4 linked regions of the Homo sapiens genome follow. The protein of the gene in region 1 purifies or fractionates together with the protein of each later gene. This does not show direct contact. Each region holds a gene or a part of one and is shown in the gene's direction. Other genes may lie near its edges.

Region 1 (4,761 bases):
TAATCCTCCCAGACTTATAGGGGAACAACTTCTGGGGAAGCCACGCCTTACACTTTGCAGTGTAGCACTTAGAATCTGAGTTCAGAGGTTGGGAGATGAACCAGAACTCCAGTGGGTCCACCTCTTGGAGCATGGAGTTGGAGGAGGTGTAGTGTTAAGAAAGAAGACAAAGGTAAAGCAGCCAGAACTCTTGGTAAGCGAGCAGCCAAGGCTTGGGGGGCATGAGGACTTACCTGAGCAAATCTAAAGAGACATATAAGCCAGATCTGCTATAGGTGTTCTCACTAAGTGCTCATTCAGTGAGTTCTATTCATGGGGGATTAAGGGCAAAGCTTGTGATGTACTAGGAACATCACTAACTGCAGTCACTGTCATGAGGGCAGTTCTCTTTTTACCTTACAATTTATTCCTTTTGGCGGAACATTTGAAACATTCTGTCAGAGTGGATTGTAACATAACTCAGAATCAGTATCTCGTTATCTACTCTTTTTTTGTTACGTCTTAGGCTATGTTGCTAATTTTTTAAAATTTGCTTCGTCTTACAGACCATTGTGATGAATGACTGTATTATCCGAGGGGATCTGGCAAATGTAAGAGTTGGACGTCATTGTGTTGTGAAAAGTCGTAGTGTCATAAGGCCACCATTCAAGAAGTTCAGCAAAGGGTATGTAATTTAATTACTTTGTTCAAGTCTTGGGCAAGAAGCTGCCACTGGTGGTGTGGTCCATGTGTTGAGTTGTGGTATAATGACTAGGTCTGTCCTGTTTGAAGCACTGAGTAAGAGTTCACCATAATGAACACAACTCTGCTGGTGGTTGTCTCAGTCTGGTTGATGATTGGTTGCTACAAACAGAATCCGCTTACACACTGGCAAAAGCAAAGGATTTCTGATCAAACAGACTGGCGTATATAATGGAACCTAAGAGGAGGAAAAGGAGCAAGCCAGGCCTCACAAGGGACCGGAACCTGGAATTGGACAGCTAGCCGGAATCAAGACTGTTTTGTCTACCTATCCCTCTCTGTATCTGAGACTGTATTTTTTCTTCTATACTGCCCTTCTCTCTGCATTTCTACTTGCCTTTTCTCTCTCACAGATACCTGCCCCATTTGTTCATGGAGCCTACCTTGCTGACTCAGCCTCTAATTTATATCATTTCTCCATTTAGGCTTCCAGCAGACACCAACTAGAGATCTTATGTGTTACTTCCAAACTCTTGAGAGAGAGAATCTGATTGACTCATCTTAAGTATCCCTGATCTGAACGACTTTGACCCAAAGGGCAGAGTCAAGTCAGGTCCACTGATCCTTCAGTGGGAATAAAGACTGTCCAAGAAAGGCCAGGGACAGAGCAGGCAAACTGACCACCATAGCTGATAATGGTGCTAAAGTATTCTCTTTGCCTCTTTGCTTCTCTCCTCCTTGACTAATTGCCCTCCTGGCACCCATCTGCATTTCATCCAATAAGTCAGCAAGCATTTATTGAGCACCTTCCTCATGCCTGCAGCTGGGTTGTAAGCTGAGAATATATAAAGATAGATAAAATAAAATTCCTGCCTCAAGGTTCCCAAAGTCTAGTTGTAGAAGCAATTAGCATAATCAGATAGCGACATATGACAGCTACTATATGATGTGATACACCTGTCACAGAGGTATGACCATGGTTAGGAAGGAACAGAGAAGGGAGCAATTAACTCAAACTAATGATAATACCCAGAAGTATATCATGCAGAAATAATCCCACATTTCCAATAATGATGTTGGATTCCAGGCTTTCCATGACATACAAGAACTGGATCGGAGAATCATTATAAAACATTCACATGATTAGCTTTGAAGGCTACTAGGGGAAAACCAGAAAACCTCCTGGTACCCTATTATGGTTTTATACAGTGTGACTGATACACTACTAGAAATGTTGATTAACAGCATTGTTGGGTTGGATATGGCACAGGAAAAGCACCAAGAGTGAACAAGGGGTTTATTGCTGAATGAAGGGATGTGTAAATAGGAATAGTACATGTGAGAAATGCTGAAAATATGAAAGTGTAAATAGCAAAACATGAATAGAAGCTAAATGTGGATTTTTTTCTACCTGCATGTCATACCAGAACCAGATAATACTATCGAACTTGGAATCTTAAATTTAAAATTAAAGAACTGTCAGTACTGCTACAGACTGTGATGAGATCAGGGAATGCATTGCTGCACAAGAGGTACAGACCAAAAATACTAGTGGTTAAGGAAGATTTAAACAAATTATAGGTTCGTAGAGGACAGGTATCATCTCTGAAAAAATATTCTGGACAGAATAGAACAGAATTGGAATTCTTCTATACTGCCCTTCTCTCTGCATTTCTACTTCCCTTTTCTCTAGTGAGCATCTAGCACTTTATATTCATTCCAGTCCAAATATTTTACATCCCAAGGTATAGAAATTACATATAAATGTGATCACAGAACCACTGTCAGTGACATTTGAGGAACCCTAGAGAACGGGATGGGAATGATGTCAGATATCTGGAGAAAGCCTGCTGACTCCTACTCAAAGTCAATTAAGTTTTTCCTAAATCCATGGACTAGGTAAGGTCTCCTTGTTATATATGCTCATAACTTGATATTGTGTTTCTGTAGCCCTTATCACAGTTGTCACTACTTACTATTTAATCTCATTTCTTCTCTTGATTGCAAGCTGCTCGTGGACAGTGTTCTCTCTCTTTTGTCATTATTATAGCCCTAATTTCTAGCATTGAGTCTGGCACATAGTAGTCACTCACTGAAGTCTGTGAATGAATAAATTTTTAGAATGCTGAATGTGGAAATTATAACTCATGAGCCTACTGTCAATCCCCTGGAACATTATAGGGCAGGTTACTAAAAATGTGATCTGTGAGCATTTTCAAAGGAAGTGGGAATGAACAAACGTTCATTGATTTTTATTTGGTACCTGCTCTTTTAGCTTTGAAGATCTTGCCCCTCCTGCCTTGGTTTTTCCTTTCATATTTCTTTGGTGTACTATTGCAATTTTGAACTAGTAATCATATTCATTTTCTTCAATATTGTATAATTTTTCTAGCCTGAGGTTTCTTTCCTTGCTGGGAACAGTCTTGCTAAGATGATAAAGTTCAAATTATGATCTGTAGTTCTATAAACCTTGACCCAAAGTACATCATCTTGACCTTTCTGTGTTCATCTTCTTTTCCTCTTCTAGTGTTGCATTCTTTCCTTTACATATTGGAGACCATGTCTTTATTGAGGAAGATTGTGTGGTCAACGCAGCACAGATTGGTTCCTATGTTCATGTTGGGAAGAACTGTGTGATTGTGAGTATGATGACTTGGCTGGCAAAGCAGCTTCACTTTCCCTTCAGCTCCCATCCCTCACTTCGGTGGGACCCTGTTTCTGTGACTAAGCAGGGTAGCAGTGGTTTCCAGTCTTCCCAGAGTTGGATTTTTCTTGACAGATATGGAATTTTTTCAGCTGGGTGCGGTGGCTCATGCCTGTAATCCCAGCTTTTTGGGAGGTTGAAGTGGGCAGATCACTTGAGGTCAGGAGTTTGAGACCAGTCTGGCCAACATGGCAAAACCCTGTCTCTACAAAAATACAAAAATTAGCTGGGCATGGTGGCGCATGCCTGTAGTCCCAGCTACTCGGGAGGCTGAGGCAGGAAAATCACTTGAACCCAGGAGGCGGAGGTTGCAATGAGCCAAGATTGCACCACTGCTTTCCAGTCTGGGCAACAAAACGAGACACTGTCTTATAAATAAATAAATAAATAAATAAATAAATAAATAAAAAGATTTGGAATATTTTCTAGACATTAATACGGGCAAGCGTTTATCAAGTCTCCTCTATATGATGTTAAACTCTTTCCTTTGATGATTTCATTTAATCCTTACAACCATTCAGATGTGTTAGGTGTTATCCCTATTTGCAGATGAGAAGACTGAGGACCTTAAATATTAAGGGATTTGGGGCCAGGTGTGGTGACTGTAGCCTATAATCCCAGCACTTTGCGAGGCCAAGGCAGGAGGATCCCTTGAGCCCAGGAGTTCAAGACCAGCCTGGGCAACAAAGCAAGACCCTTTCTCTTAAAAAAAAAAAAAACCCAAAAGTTAAGGGATTTGATAGGGCTAGAAAGCAGTAGACCTGGGATTTAAACCCAGGCAATATGATTATTAGCCATGCTGCTATATGGCCTACTTATTGCCTTACTTCACGGAGCTTACAGTCTAATGGGAGTAAGGAAATCTGAAGGGTGAGTTGAAACTGGGGGAAGACAGGCATTTCAGGAAAGAGATTCACATGCGTAAGGAAGGGTTCAAGTCATCAAAGGGCATTTACATGTAATTCAGGGTGCAAGCGGGCCCCTTGCTCAGCAGAATCTGTAGGACCCTGGTCCATTGGAGCCTAGGAATAGGTTGATTTAACCCAACCAAGGCTTAACAAGGTTGGATTTCCTGTGATTTCTTAGATGATGAGCTTGATTTCAGTTGGGATTTATGAGAACCATGTTTAGGGAAAGTGTTTTCTGCATTTTAGATTTGTACTCCAGACTAGATTCTAGGAAAAGCCAAGACTCTGTTTCTTTAATGACCATTCCCGTTAATATGGAGCCAGCTCTCTGCCCTGGATAAGACTCAGACCCTGAAATATCAAAAAACTTGCAGAAACCAAACAGTTCACATTCCAGGAGCTATGAGGGTACAGCAAAGGTGGACAGAAAGTCTTTGGGACAAGGGGAAAGTTAGTAAAGTTCATCTC
Region 2 (4,761 bases), on another chromosome or scaffold:
CAAACTCCTAGCTTCAAATGATCCTGGGATGCTGACTTTTATTGAATGCTTTTTCTGCATCTATTGAGATGATCATATGGTTTTTGTTTTTAATTCTGTTGCTGTGATGTATCATATTTATTGACTTGCATATGTTAAACCATCCCAGCATCCCTGGGATGAAACCCACTTGATCATGGTGTATTGAATAGGGTGTATTATTTTTCTGATATGCTGTTGGATTCAGTTTACTAGTCTTTCATTGAGGATTTTTGCGTCTGTGTTCACCAGGGATATTGGGCTCTAGTTTTCTTTTTTTTTGTTATGTCCTTTCCTAGTTTTTGTATCAGGGCGATATTAGCTTCATAGAATGAGTTAGGGAGGATTCCTTCTTTCTCATTCTTTTGGAATACTTTCAGTAAGATTGGTACCAATTCTTCCTTGAATGTCTGGTAGAATCTGACTGTGAATCCTTCTGGTCCTGGGCTTTTTTTTGTTGGTGGTAATATTTTTTAATTACTGACTCAATCTCACTGCTTTTTATTGGTTTGGTCAGGATTTCTGTTTCTTCCTGATTCAGTCTAGGAGGGTTGTGTGTTTCCAGGAATTTATCCATTTCTACTAGATGTTCTAGTTTGTGTGCATAGAGGTGTTCATAGTAGTCTCAAAGGATCTTTTGTATTTCTGTGGTGTTGCTTGTAATGTCTCCATTTTCCTTTCTAATTGAACTAATATAGAATCTTCTTTTCTTGTCTAATCTAGCTAATGATCTATGAATTTAGTTTATCTTTTCAAAAACCACCTTTTTTTTCATTGATCTTTTGCAGTTTCTTTTGTTTCAATTTCATTTAGTTCTGCTCTGATCTTTGTTATTTCTTTTATGCTAGCTTTGGGTTTAATCTGTTCTTTTTTTTTTTTTTTTTGAGACAGAGTCTCATTCTGTTGCCCAGGGAGTGCAGTGGTGCGATCTCAGCTCACTGCAACCTCTGCCTCCCGGGTTCAAGCAATTTTCCTGCCTCAGCTCTCCTGAATAGCTGGGATTACAGGCGTGTGTCACCACGCCCAGCTAATTTTTGTACTTTTGTTAGAAGCAGGATTTCACCATGTTGACCAGGCTCGTCTTGAACTCCTGGACTCAAGCGATCTGCCCACCCCAGCCTCTCAAAGTGCTGGGATTATAGGTATGAGCCACCGCGCCCAGCCTCATTTGGTCTGTTCTTGTTCCTCTAGTTCCTTGAGGTGTGACATTAGGTTGTCAATTTGTGATCTTTCAGACTTTTCTCTCTCTCTCTCTCTCTCTTTTTTAAATAGAGATGAGGTCTTGCTATGTTATCCAGGCTGGTCTTGAACTCCTGAGCTCAAGCAATCCTCCTGCCTTGGCCTTTCAAAGTGCTGGGGTTATAGGCGTGAGTCACCATGCCTGGCTCAAGACTTCTTGATGTAGGCATTTAACACTATAAATTTTTCCTCTTAGCACTGCTTTTGCTGTATCCCAGAGGTTTTGATAACTTGTGTCACTATTATTTATTTTGAAGAATTTTTAAATTTCCAGTGATTTCATTGTTAACCCAAAAATCATTTAGAAGCAGATTGTTTAATTTCCATGTATTTGTATAGTTTTGAAGGTTCCTTTTCAAGTTGGTTTCTAGTTTTATTCGACTGTGGTCTGAGAAGATACTTGATATGATTTCAATTTTTTTAAATTTGAGATTTGTTTTGTGGTCTATCATATGGTCTATCTTGGAGAATATTTCAGGCACTGATGAGAAGATTGTATATTCTGCAGTTCTGGAGTAGATGTTCTGTAAATATGTTAGTTGATTTGTTCTGGAGTATAGTATAGGTCCAGTGTTTGTTGACTTTCTGCCTTGATGATCTGTTTGCTGTTGTCAGTGGAGTGTGAAGTCTTCCACTATCATTGTGTTGCTGTCTTTCTCTTTTGTTAGGTCTGGTAGTAGTTGTTTTATGAATCTGGGAGCTCCAGTTTTAGGTGCATATATATTTAGGATTGTAATATCTTCTTGTTGGGTTGATCCTTTTATAATTATATAATAGCCTTCTTTGTCTTTTTTTCAGTGTTGTTGCTTTAAATTCTATTTTATTTGATATAAGAAAAGCTACTGCTGCTTGCATTTGGCTTCCATTTGTATGGAATATCTTTTTCCACTCCTTTACCTTTAGTCTATAAGAAGCCTCACATGTTAAGTGAGTCTCTTGAAGATGGCAGATATTTGGTTTGCGATTTATTTATTTATTTATTTATTTATTGAGACGGAATCTCGCTCTGTAGCTCAGGCTGGAGTGCAGTGGTGTGATCTCAGCTCACTGTAACCTCTGCCTCCCGGGTTCAAGTGATTCTCCTGCCTCAGCCTCCCGAGTAGCTGGGACTACAGGCACACACCACCACACTTGGCTAATTTTTGTATTTTTAGTAGAGATTTTGCAACGTTAGCCAGACTGGTCTTGAATTCCTGACCTCAGGTGATCCACCCACCTCAGCCTCCCCAAGTGCTGGGATTACAGGTGTGAGCCACTGCGCCCAGCCTGTGATTTTTTTTTTTTTTTTGAGTGGAGTATTTAGACCATTTACATTGAATGTTAATATTGAGATGTGAGGTACTGTTACAGTCATCATGTTGATTGTTACCTAGATACTTTTCTTCCTTCATTACATTATTGTTTTATAGGCCCTGTGAGTTTTATGCTTTCAAGAGGTTCTATTCTGGTGCATGCCAACCTTTTGTTTTAAGATTTAGAACTCCTTTTTGCATTTCTTGTAGGTCTGGTCTGGTAGTGACAAATTCCCTCAGCATGTGCTTGTCTGAAAAAGACTTTATTTCTCTTTCATTCATGAAACTTAGTTTTGTTGGATACAAAATTCTTGACTAATGTTTATTCTGCTTAAGGAGGCTAACAATAGGACCCCAATCCCTTCTGCAGTTGTAAGGTTTCTGGAGAGAAATTCTTGTGAATAAAACAATCCATCTTTTCTTTTTAGCTTCCACCAACACTTTCTTCCAAATATCCTGAAGATGACCCAGACTACTGTGTGTGGGTCCCACCTGAAGGTAGATTGTTTTTACTTTTTTTTCCTCTAAGGTTCATTTATTTATATTTTTGAATAGGTAATATAGATTTAAGGTTCAACATAAGAAAGTTACAAGAGTATGTAGTGATAATTTGTATACCATGTTTGGATCCTTATTCAAACAAACAACTGTTTAAAAAAATTATTAGCCAGTCAGATAATTTTGAACACTACCTGGATATTTGATGATACTAAGAAATTATTTTTTATTTTTTTAAAGTGTGAATGATGTTGAGTTATGTTTTTTGGAAAAAGTCCTTGTCTTCTAGGAATATATACGGAAGTGTTTACAGGTGTAATGTTATCTGGGTTTTACCAAGTCAAAAGAAAGGAAAACAATTCTGGCTGTGCCTCAGCTACTCGGTTGTTTTCCTCACAAGACAACCAATTGTTGTTAGTTTCTTATGGATACTTATATATAAAATGCTAAGTAGAGAGGAGCATCTATAGAAAAAAAATCATAAAAGTTAACCTGCTGGATCAAAGGTATAAACATTTTAAAGATATTATAAATTGCATTCTATAGAGATTGTACCAGTTTTATGCTCATACACACACCCTTAAAGCAATGTATGAGATACTTACTTCCTCATATGTTCATCACAGCTTGAGATTTCTAATATATTAGTAACTAATATAATTTAGTTACTTGAGATGTCTGCTTTTTCTATGCTAACAAATGTTAGGGTAGAAATGAAAGAGGGCTGTATTTTGAAATTTCATACAAAAAGTAAAATTTCTACCGTAGAATAAACCTTTTTGTCTATTTTACTTTTTGGCCTACTGATATCTGGATATCTTTTCTCTCCTGACTTTGGAAGAGTAAATAATGTATTTCTTTTTTTATATTCTGATCTAGGTCAAAGTGGAGATGGCAGAACCCATCTTAATGACAAGTATGGCTATTGATTGCTTCAGAATCCCAAAAGAAAACCTTGTGGACCATGTGACATGGAATATTTGGGATAATGTATCAAATTGAATGGCCAGAGAAGTTTAGATGATTATTTGTAAGATCTGGTGACTGGCTTTTCGTTCTGTGTTCTTGGCTTCCTAAATTTATCTGCCCATATGATTCTCATGCATTTGATATTTATGTTTAAAAGTGTTTATATATGTATGTAAAAAGGGAACCATATGTTTTGAGAATTTGTAAAGTGAGAGACATGATCCTATTAAAATAAGAAGGCAAAAATGTTCCTAATATTTTATTTTATTTTATTTTTTTTAAGAGACAGGGTCTTACTCTGTCACCTAGGCTGGGGTACAGTGGTGCAATCCTAGCTCACTGTAGCCTTGAACTCCTGGGCTCAAGCAATCCTCCCACCTCAGCCTCCCAAGTACCTGGGACTATAGGCATGTACCACCACCACACCTGGCTAATTATTTTATTTAAATTTTTTGGAGAGATGAAGTCTTGCCATGTTGCCCAGGCTTGTCTTGAACTCCTGGCCTCAAGTGATCCTCCTGCCTCAGCCTCCCAAAGCACTGGAACCTCATTTTTTTTTCTTTTTTTCTGAGACAGGGTCTCACTCTGTTGCCCAGAGTGAGTGCAGTGGCATGATCACAGCTTACTGCAGTGGCATGATCACAGCTTACTGCAGTCTCAACTTCCCAGGCTCAAGTGATTCTCCTGCCTCAGCCTCCTGAGTAGCTGGTACTACAGGTACATGCCACTGTGCCTGGCTAATTTT
Region 3 (4,761 bases), on another chromosome or scaffold:
ACTATACAACCCATTTCTTTAAAGTTTTAAAATAGGCAAAGCAAATCTATAGTGTTATAAGTCAAATAGTTGTTACCCTTCAGGGCAGGTGCCCAGAAAGGGGTACCAGGGAATATTCTGGATGCAGATACTGTCTTGATCTGAGTATTAGTTACATGGATGTGTTTGATTTATGAAAATTGATCAAGCTGTGTAATTTATCATTTGTACACTTTCTACATGTATGTTGTAATTCAATTTATAGTTCCCCACCAAAGTTACCTAAGTAATACTCAGATATTTGAAGTAGTATCTGTCCATATTGATTTAGAAGAGGAATGTCCCAAAATAGTCCTTTGGATTTAAGATGTTTTTACTGCCATTTTGACTCAGAGGACATTTTGATTTTATATTTATGAATACACATTTCAATCATAACTATATAAACAGTGACAAATTTTCATTGAGAAAATATTTTTAACCTCAAATTGCATCCTGTAAGTCTGTTTGATTCTTAGGTCAGCATTTTACAACACGATTAACAATTTTCAATTTCATTGTGATCATAATTTTTCCCTGAAGTTTTAATTTATTGACTTTTTGGGGTCAATTATGTTAGAATAAATTGTCCATATTTGATTTTTTTATTGCTTTGGGGGCCCATACCAGATTTTGCCAATTATAGCTTCTGCCTTTGTGAATTTTCTTCTGTGACTATTCCCACCAAGTTTAATTTTTCTAATTCAAATTTTGTGTATTTAAAGTTTATCAAGATTTTTTTCTTCCATCAATTTCAAGAGCACATTACTGTGTTCAATTTTTGCCTTTAATAGTTTTATTTTGGGTTGATTATTTCTACTTTTTTTTTTTTTTTTTGAGATGGAGTTTCGCTTTTGTTGCTCAGGCTGGAATGCAATGGCACGATCTCAGGTCACTGCAACCTCCGCCTCCCGAGTTCAAGCGATTCTCCTGCCTCAGCCTCCCAAGTAGCTGGGATTACAGGCGTGTGCTGCCATGCCCAGCTAATTTTGTATTTTTAGTAGAGACGGGGTTTCACCATGTTGGTCAGGCTGGTCTTGAGCTCCTGACCTCAAATGATCCACCCACCTCCGCCTCTCAAAGTGCTGGGATTACAGGTGTGAGCCACTTTGGCTGGCCTTACTTTCATTTTTCCTGGTTAGTTTTTATGGTGATTCTCAGATCACAGAAATGTGAGCCTTAGTTGCAGGTTTTTGTCCACATTAATTTTTATTGATTTTTTATTATTTTTAGCTGTCAGTTTGATATTGTACTAATAATATTCATTATAGACAGGATAAAAACTGATAAAAATTTATTAGTAATTTCTTGAGCATAGCACTTTGGTAGGGCAAAAGCATGGTATCAGATGTACTCCAGGGCAGATGTCTTATTTGCTAGCCTTCCTGGTCAGTGTGTCTTCACTTTCTCTTGGTTTGTAGGCAGCATTACAGAAACAACAGGAAGTAGTAGTGGCTGGGTCTTCCTTGCCTACATCATCAAAAGTGAATGCAACTGTACCAAGTAATATGATGTCAGTTAATGGACAGGCCAAAACACACACTGACAGCTCCGAAAAAGAACTGGAACCAGAAGCTGCAGAAGAAGCCCTGGAGAATGGACCAAAAGGTAGGTTTTGCATATGTGTTTGTCCAGATGTCATAATTCCAAATCTGTGAAAGGCAAAAGTCATGAAGTCAGGTTATAATTAGCTTTTGAGAACAATTACATATTTGTGAGAGTTGAACATTTTTTTACTCTTTTTAGTCTGAATCTAATGCTCTGGTGACTCATAGACCAGTGTAGAAGAGCAAATCAGATGTCTTTGGACACTTTTAAGACAAAAGTTATGTTTTGTCATATATATATATATAAATTATCTATTGCTGCATAACAAATTACAGGCTGGGCGCAGTGGCTCATACCTGTAATCCCAGCACTCTGGGAGGCTGAGGCAGGAAGATCACTTGAGCCCAAGAGTTTGAGGCTGCAGTGAACTATGATTCCGCCTGCCTGGGTGACAAAGCAAGACTGTCTCTCAAAAAAAAAACAAACAAAAATTAATTACACCTAAATTTAGTAGCTTGAAATAACAATAAACATTTATTACTATCTTGTACAGCTTCAGTGGGTCAGGGTTTCAGGAGCAGTTTAGCTGAATGGCTCTGACTTAGGCTCCCTCATGAGATTGCAGTCAAGATGTTGATGCCAGGACTAGAAGATCTGCTTCCAAAATGGTTCCCTCACATGGCTGGCTTTTGGCTGGAAGCTCAATTCCTGGCCCCATGAAGCCTCTCCATAGGGCTTCTTGAGGGTCCTCAAAACAGTTACTGGCTTCCCCTAGCAGAAGTGGCAGTGTCTTTTATGCCTTGACTTTGGAACTCCCACCATATTCTGTTGGTCACACATACCAATCCTTATATATTGTGGGTGGTGACCTCACAAGTGCATGAAGACCCAGAGGTGAGAATCTCTGGGGACCATCTTGGAGGCTGGCTACCATAGAAATAGATATATTTTTGAGACTAATGTATCATGTTGCCTAGAAAATAACTGCATTTTCAAAGCTCTACTAGCTTTCCATGGGCAGCTCATTTGTTCATTCAGCAATTAGTTGAAGGTTTCCTGAGTGCTAGGAGTACAGTGGTGAGGCAAAATAACACACAGAAAATGTAGATTGTAGCTGTGATAAGTACGGTGATGGAGAGAGAGGTACATTATCTTTGAGAGAATGTAAAACAGGGAAGTGTGACCTAGTCAGAGAGGCCACCAGAGGCTTCCCAGAGGAAGGGACAATTGACCTGAGATATCTGAAGCAAGAGGAGTTAACTAAGTAAGGAGGAAGAGGAGAGCATTTCAGTGACAGTGGTCAGGGATGGTGGTATGGTTCATAAGAAATTTGGTTTCAGAGATCTTCCTTGTCTGTTTAGAACAAGTAATAATTGCTTCAGAAAAGGCTTTGAAATCCCTTGGTTTACTGCCCCCTTCCCTTTTTTTTTCTTATCAAGGGATTATACTAGCATCTTCAAATGAGAGAAAATATTTCAAAGGCTCTGTGACTAACTTTGAAAAACTTATTGCATAGTCAAGTGCACATAGGTACTGCTCAGTAACAAGACTTTACCCCTTTTTCTCAGTCCCTAGTGGTTCTAATCCTGTCCGAGTTTTTGTTTCTTTGAGCTCCTTTAGAATAGCCCCTAGAACTTTGGGATAGTTGGAGGTGAAGAATTTTTCAACAGACAGGCTGAAGTCAAAGTCCAGCTTTCTTTGTTCACATCCACAAGAGTAATTTATTCCTAAAGCCAGAATCTCTCTTCCTTGCTAGAATATTTCCCTCACTCCAGCTGGGGCCTTCCCAAGGTCATTCTTGAATCCCCATAGAGGGAGTGTTGAAAAAAATTCGTTTCTAAAATTGTGGGCTGCCATTGTTACTTGAAGAAGTACGATGACCTCTGAGTGCCTGCAACATTGTTAAACATAGTAATCTGGAGAGACTCCCATGGGGAGGCTTTTTTATTCCTCCAAGTCCTTGATCTAAGCTAGACCATATTGTACTTGGTGCCTGAGTACAACTGATCAGGTAGTGCTATGAAAATGTGGCTACCTGCAGGGTGAAGGCTCTTTTTCTTTAGCTTTTTAATACCTATTGCCTTTAGAATCTCTTCCAGTAATAGCAGCTCCATCCATGTGGACACGACCTCAGATCAAAGACTTCAAAGAGAAGATTCAGCAGGATGCAGATTCCGTGATTACAGTGGGCCGAGGAGAAGTGGTCACTGTTCGAGTACCCACCCATGAAGAAGGATCATATCTCTTTTGGGAATTTGCCACAGACAATTATGACATTGGGTTTGGGGTGTATTTTGAATGGACAGACTCTCCAAACACTGCTGTCAGCGTGCATGTCAGTGAGTCCAGCGATGACGACGAGGAGGAAGAAGGTAGAACCCTTGGTCCATATTCAGTAGCTGCTGGGTTGTGTGTTGGCAGAAATGGTACATAGTTCAGGTGTCACCCAGCCTTATGCTTCCTGACTAACACTTCATGGTTAGGGAACACTTTCTTCATTAGTGGGACCTTGGGCTGAAAATGTTATGAGGCCAGGCTCCTGTAGGGGACTGGGGCCTAAACCTGAATTTTTCTGAATGCCAGGAAAATCTATTTGGCAATTTGCTATTTTACTCCTTTCTGAATACTATTTTACTTCTAACCGTGTGTGTTGAAAAGCCAAATATGCAAGATTACTTCAAAAAAAATTTTTTTTTTTTTGAGACAGAGTCTCACTCTGTCACCCAGGCTGGAGTGCAGTGGCATGATCTCTGCTCACAGTAGTCTCGGCCTCTTAGGTTCAAGCGATTCTCCTGCCTCAGCCTCCTGAGTAGCTGGGATTACAGGCACGCACCACTGTGCCCGGCTAATTTTTTGTATTTTTAGTAGAGACGAGGTTTCACCATGTTGGTCAGGCTGGTCTCGAACTCCTGACCTTGTGATCCACCCGCCTCGGCCTCCCAAAGTGCTGGGATTACAGGCGTGAGCCACAGCACCCGACCCACTTTGAAAAATTTTAAAGGAGCAAGTAAGAATTCCTGTCAACCCTGGCATTTATTTAAATTTATATTGTTGATATTAGCATTTTAGGTCATTATTCTAAAATTTTTTATGTAAATACAGAAACTCACCAGAATAGTCCACTTAAAAAAATTTCAATTATTTTTCCATTTGGAAATCCCTATTTTGCTAGAGTGGAATTTTTTTACTTCCTCT
Region 4 (3,500 bases), on another chromosome or scaffold:
TAAAGCCAATTTGTTCACATGATAATCTGAACCTTTTTATGTGATCTTTACAATTGTTTAAAAAACATTTCTTCCCAAATAATACAAAGGTGAATGTTCCAAGTTAACAGATTCAGTTTGACTCAATTAAATTTATAGATAAGGACCTTAGGAACTCACTTGTTAGGAATAAGAAACAGGGATTGGACTACGGTAGAACTAATAGTGCCCAATTAAAACTTTGAGGGAAAGTGACAATGGTTTCTATGGATTGTTTTTTTTAAGTCGCTTATGAAAATCTCAGACTCCTAACTGGCAATTTAAAGCATTTGATGGTAAGTAAAAATGTGATTTTTATTACCTTCTCTCCTACTGAATAACATCTATCTTAAAAACTGATTTGGGAGGCTGAGAAATTGGAAACAGCATCGTAGTATCAACATCCAAGACCTAAATCATTACTTGGAATAAAACATGTAGACTATTTGGCCAGTAATAGTGATTAACAGCAAAAGTAATCTAAATTTAGTAAAAATAAACATTTATTTTTGAGATTAAAAAGAACCAAATTTTTTAGAAGTTCCTAAGAGTAAAATTTTTCAGTGTTAATATATTCGCTTAGCAAATTTTTCAAGTAGGCATTTTTATTACTTAAATCCATTAAAAATTTCATTAATTGGCCATTCAATTGAATTCCTATTAAGGCACTATGCTAAAATGCTGTAAGTAATATTAAGATGGCTAAACCTTATTTCTTGTCCTTAAAGACACATACATGCCTTCAAAAAGTTTGTTGTGATTGACCATTGTGTTTTTTATAATCGTACATTTTCTTTTATATATACCTACTTTGGGAGCCTCGGTCCCGTTGTAAGTCTGTACAAGTAGAGTTTTATTAGCTCTGTATAACATTTCTTGGGTAACTATGACTTATAAATTAGGGGTGCTTTTGCTCCATTCAGGGGTAGAAGAATGGTTAATGTTTTTACTAAAAAGTTGTATTAATGATTGCTGCCTCAGGAATATTTTTGTAAACTCCTCAAAAGCTACAACTATTAGCACAACTTTAATTTTGTCAAAGTTTTCAACTTCATATGCTTTTGTCTTCATATTACAAAATCTAAAGTTTGAAACACGAACCAGGCTGGGTGCATTAGCTCACGCCTATAATCCCAGCACTTTGGAAGGCTGAGGCAGGCAGATCACTTGAGCCCAGGAGTTGGAGACCAGCCTAGGCAACATGGTGAAACTATGTCTCTATAGAAAATACAAAAATTAGCTGGGCATGGTGACACACCCCTATAGTCCCACCTACTCAGGAGGCTGAGGTGGGAGGACTGCTTAAACCCAGGAGGCAGAGGTTGCAGTGAGCCAACATCGTACCACTGCACTCCAGCCTGGGTGACAGACCTTGTCTCTAAATAAATAAATAATAGCCAAGTTCTTTTTTTTTTTTTTAATTATTTTGTAATTTGGAGATTTAATTAACCTAGGTCTGAGTTGTTGCCTAGCCATCTGTTCTTTTTTCCAATGTACTTCTCTTAAGCTTGTCACATAAACTACTTGGGTTCTAGTCTCTTAGTCTGTAGAAATGAGCCTATGCTATAATATCAAAAGAAATTTTTAGTTTTTTCAGTAATGCCTCAGTTTTCCAAAGGTGTCTGATTCAATATCCACAACTAGGGTGAAGGTGGTGGAGAGCAGCAAGGAAGCTACCTCTAACCAACCAGAAATAGATATCAAGAAGTCCAGCTACTAACAAGTTACTCTTTCTGTTTTATTTTAGAAAGATACTAACCTTGGTGGTTTAGTTCCTTGGCCTCTGGTAGCTTACAAAGATCAAATTAGAGTAAAATGTATTGGAGGAAGATAAAGAACACTAATTTATAGTATAGTATAATAAAAGATATAGAAAATAAAAAGATGATCAAGATAAAAACTTAAACCTCAGTAATTTTAGGCCATTTAATTTTTATGCAAACACTCATATTTGCTGTAAGAATCACTGAAACCCTCCTTCATAGTAATTACAAGTAAAAATAAAGAGAAGAATAATTGAGGCCTTACTAGGACAACAAAACTTTGTTATAGCTATGTACTGTTTGAGTTTTCTGTAGTTGATGCTTGCTAAAATTTGGATTACATTTGAATAAGGATAAAGGGCATCATACCTATTCATTCCTCTTAGATTTCTAAGCTGTATTTCAGTAAATTGATTCTCAAAGAGTGGTATAACTGGATCATAATATCCTTGTTTGCCACTCAAGAAAGTGTTCCATAACTTAAGATAACAGTGGTGGGAAAAATCATTTAAGACCTTGTTTCATATGCTTTAAGATACAAGAAATAGAGATAACACTGGGAACATATGAAACTTTGTCAGCATCAGATAATAGTGTTGTAGCGACTTGAAACATTTTTTGTCTGTGATTGTGCCAGTCACTATTTGTGACTTGGATTGAACCTTGATATGACTTTAAATTCAGGTTGATGTTTTAAAATTATTTCTGAAATATATTGAGCTTATTGCCCTAAATTAAAACTATATTCTGTAATTTTACATGAGTTATGTAAGTTTTCTGAAGAAATAAGGAGGAATCCTTTAGGCACAGACTGTCAATCTACAGATTACATAGGAGATGGCACAAATGGAAAAAGAAGGAAGAAAGGAAATGGTAGCAAGTGGTAGGGCAGGCAAAGGACATCAAAGAACAGAGCAACAAGAAAAGTCCCAGGTTGTCATTGTAATACCACAGTAGTCTTAATAGTCAAAGGACAAGTAAAGGCCTGTTAATAGCCTGTTGATTCAATAATGCTAATCTGATAATATGGTAACTGGTTTAAAAAAAAGCAATACGGTATAATAATCTTAAGACTGCTGTAATCCCAGCACTTTGGGAGGCCCAGACGGGCGGATCACGAGGTCAGGAGATCGAGACCATCCTGGCTAACACGGTGAAACCCCGTCTCTACTAAAAAATACAAAAATTAGCCGGGCATGGTGGCGCGTGCCTGTAGTCCCAGCTACACAGGAGGCTGAGGCAGGAGAATGGCGTGAACCCGGGAGGCGGAGCTTGCAGTGAGTCGAGATCGCGCCACTGCACTCCAGCCTGGGCGACAGAGCGAAACTCCGTCTCAAAAAAAAAAAAAAAAAAAAAAAAAAAGACTGAATGTTATACAGGAGTTGAGATGTAACTATTTTGCTTTGTAAATATCCTGCCTTTAAAAAAAAAAATGCTCAACTCTATTAGAGGAAATCATAGCTGTATCTTTCATTTTATTTGGAGAGAGAGGAACAAACAACCAAAAATGAGCAACCATTGTTATTTACCCAAAGCTAAGCTGTTTCTTAATAGCTGTACTCTATCTCTTCAGTAAGTAATTTGCCAGGAGAAATACAATGTTTTTAAGGAATATTTTTGTCAGCGTAAACTGTTAAACACTGAATCCCAACTTTTAGCTATCTGAAAAATGTATACTTAAATAATACATTATGGCCATTTGACTCAAATGTAAGTTCT

What was found.
Region 2: the proteins of DCTN5 (region 1) and SLC4A1AP fractionate together in Homo sapiens (co-fractionation; one large-scale study listed by BioGRID). This does not show direct contact.
Region 3: the proteins of DCTN5 (region 1) and ACBD3 fractionate together in Homo sapiens (co-fractionation; one large-scale study listed by BioGRID). This does not show direct contact.
Region 4: the proteins of DCTN5 (region 1) and SMC4 fractionate together in Homo sapiens (co-fractionation; one large-scale study listed by BioGRID). This does not show direct contact.

Annotation. Positions count from the first base shown.
Region 1 is NC_000016.10:23,657,962-23,662,722, forward strand, and holds part of DCTN5 (dynactin subunit 5), read left to right. Parts: intron 1-545; coding exon 546-664; intron 665-3,208; coding exon 3,209-3,320; intron 3,321-4,761. UniProt on the Homo sapiens protein: Part of the dynactin complex that activates the molecular motor dynein for ultra-processive transport along microtubules.
Region 2 is NC_000002.12:27,690,708-27,695,468, forward strand, and holds the end of SLC4A1AP (kanadaptin), read left to right. Parts: intron 1-2,977; coding exon 2,978-3,047; intron 3,048-3,926; coding exon 3,927-3,976; 3' UTR 3,977-4,262; downstream 4,263-4,761.
Region 3 is NC_000001.11:226,151,512-226,156,272, reverse strand, and holds part of ACBD3 (Golgi resident protein GCP60), read left to right. Parts: intron 1-1,295; exon of another isoform or gene 1,296-1,439; coding exon 1,440-1,626; exon of another isoform or gene 1,627-1,670; intron 1,671-3,653; coding exon 3,654-3,938; intron 3,939-4,761. UniProt on the Homo sapiens protein: Involved in the maintenance of Golgi structure by interacting with giantin, affecting protein transport between the endoplasmic reticulum and Golgi. Involved in hormone-induced steroid biosynthesis in testicular Leydig cells.
Region 4 is NC_000003.12:160,406,150-160,409,649, forward strand, and holds part of SMC4 (structural maintenance of chromosomes protein 4), read left to right. Parts: intron 1-3,500. UniProt on the Homo sapiens protein: Central component of the condensin complex, a complex required for conversion of interphase chromatin into mitotic-like condense chromosomes.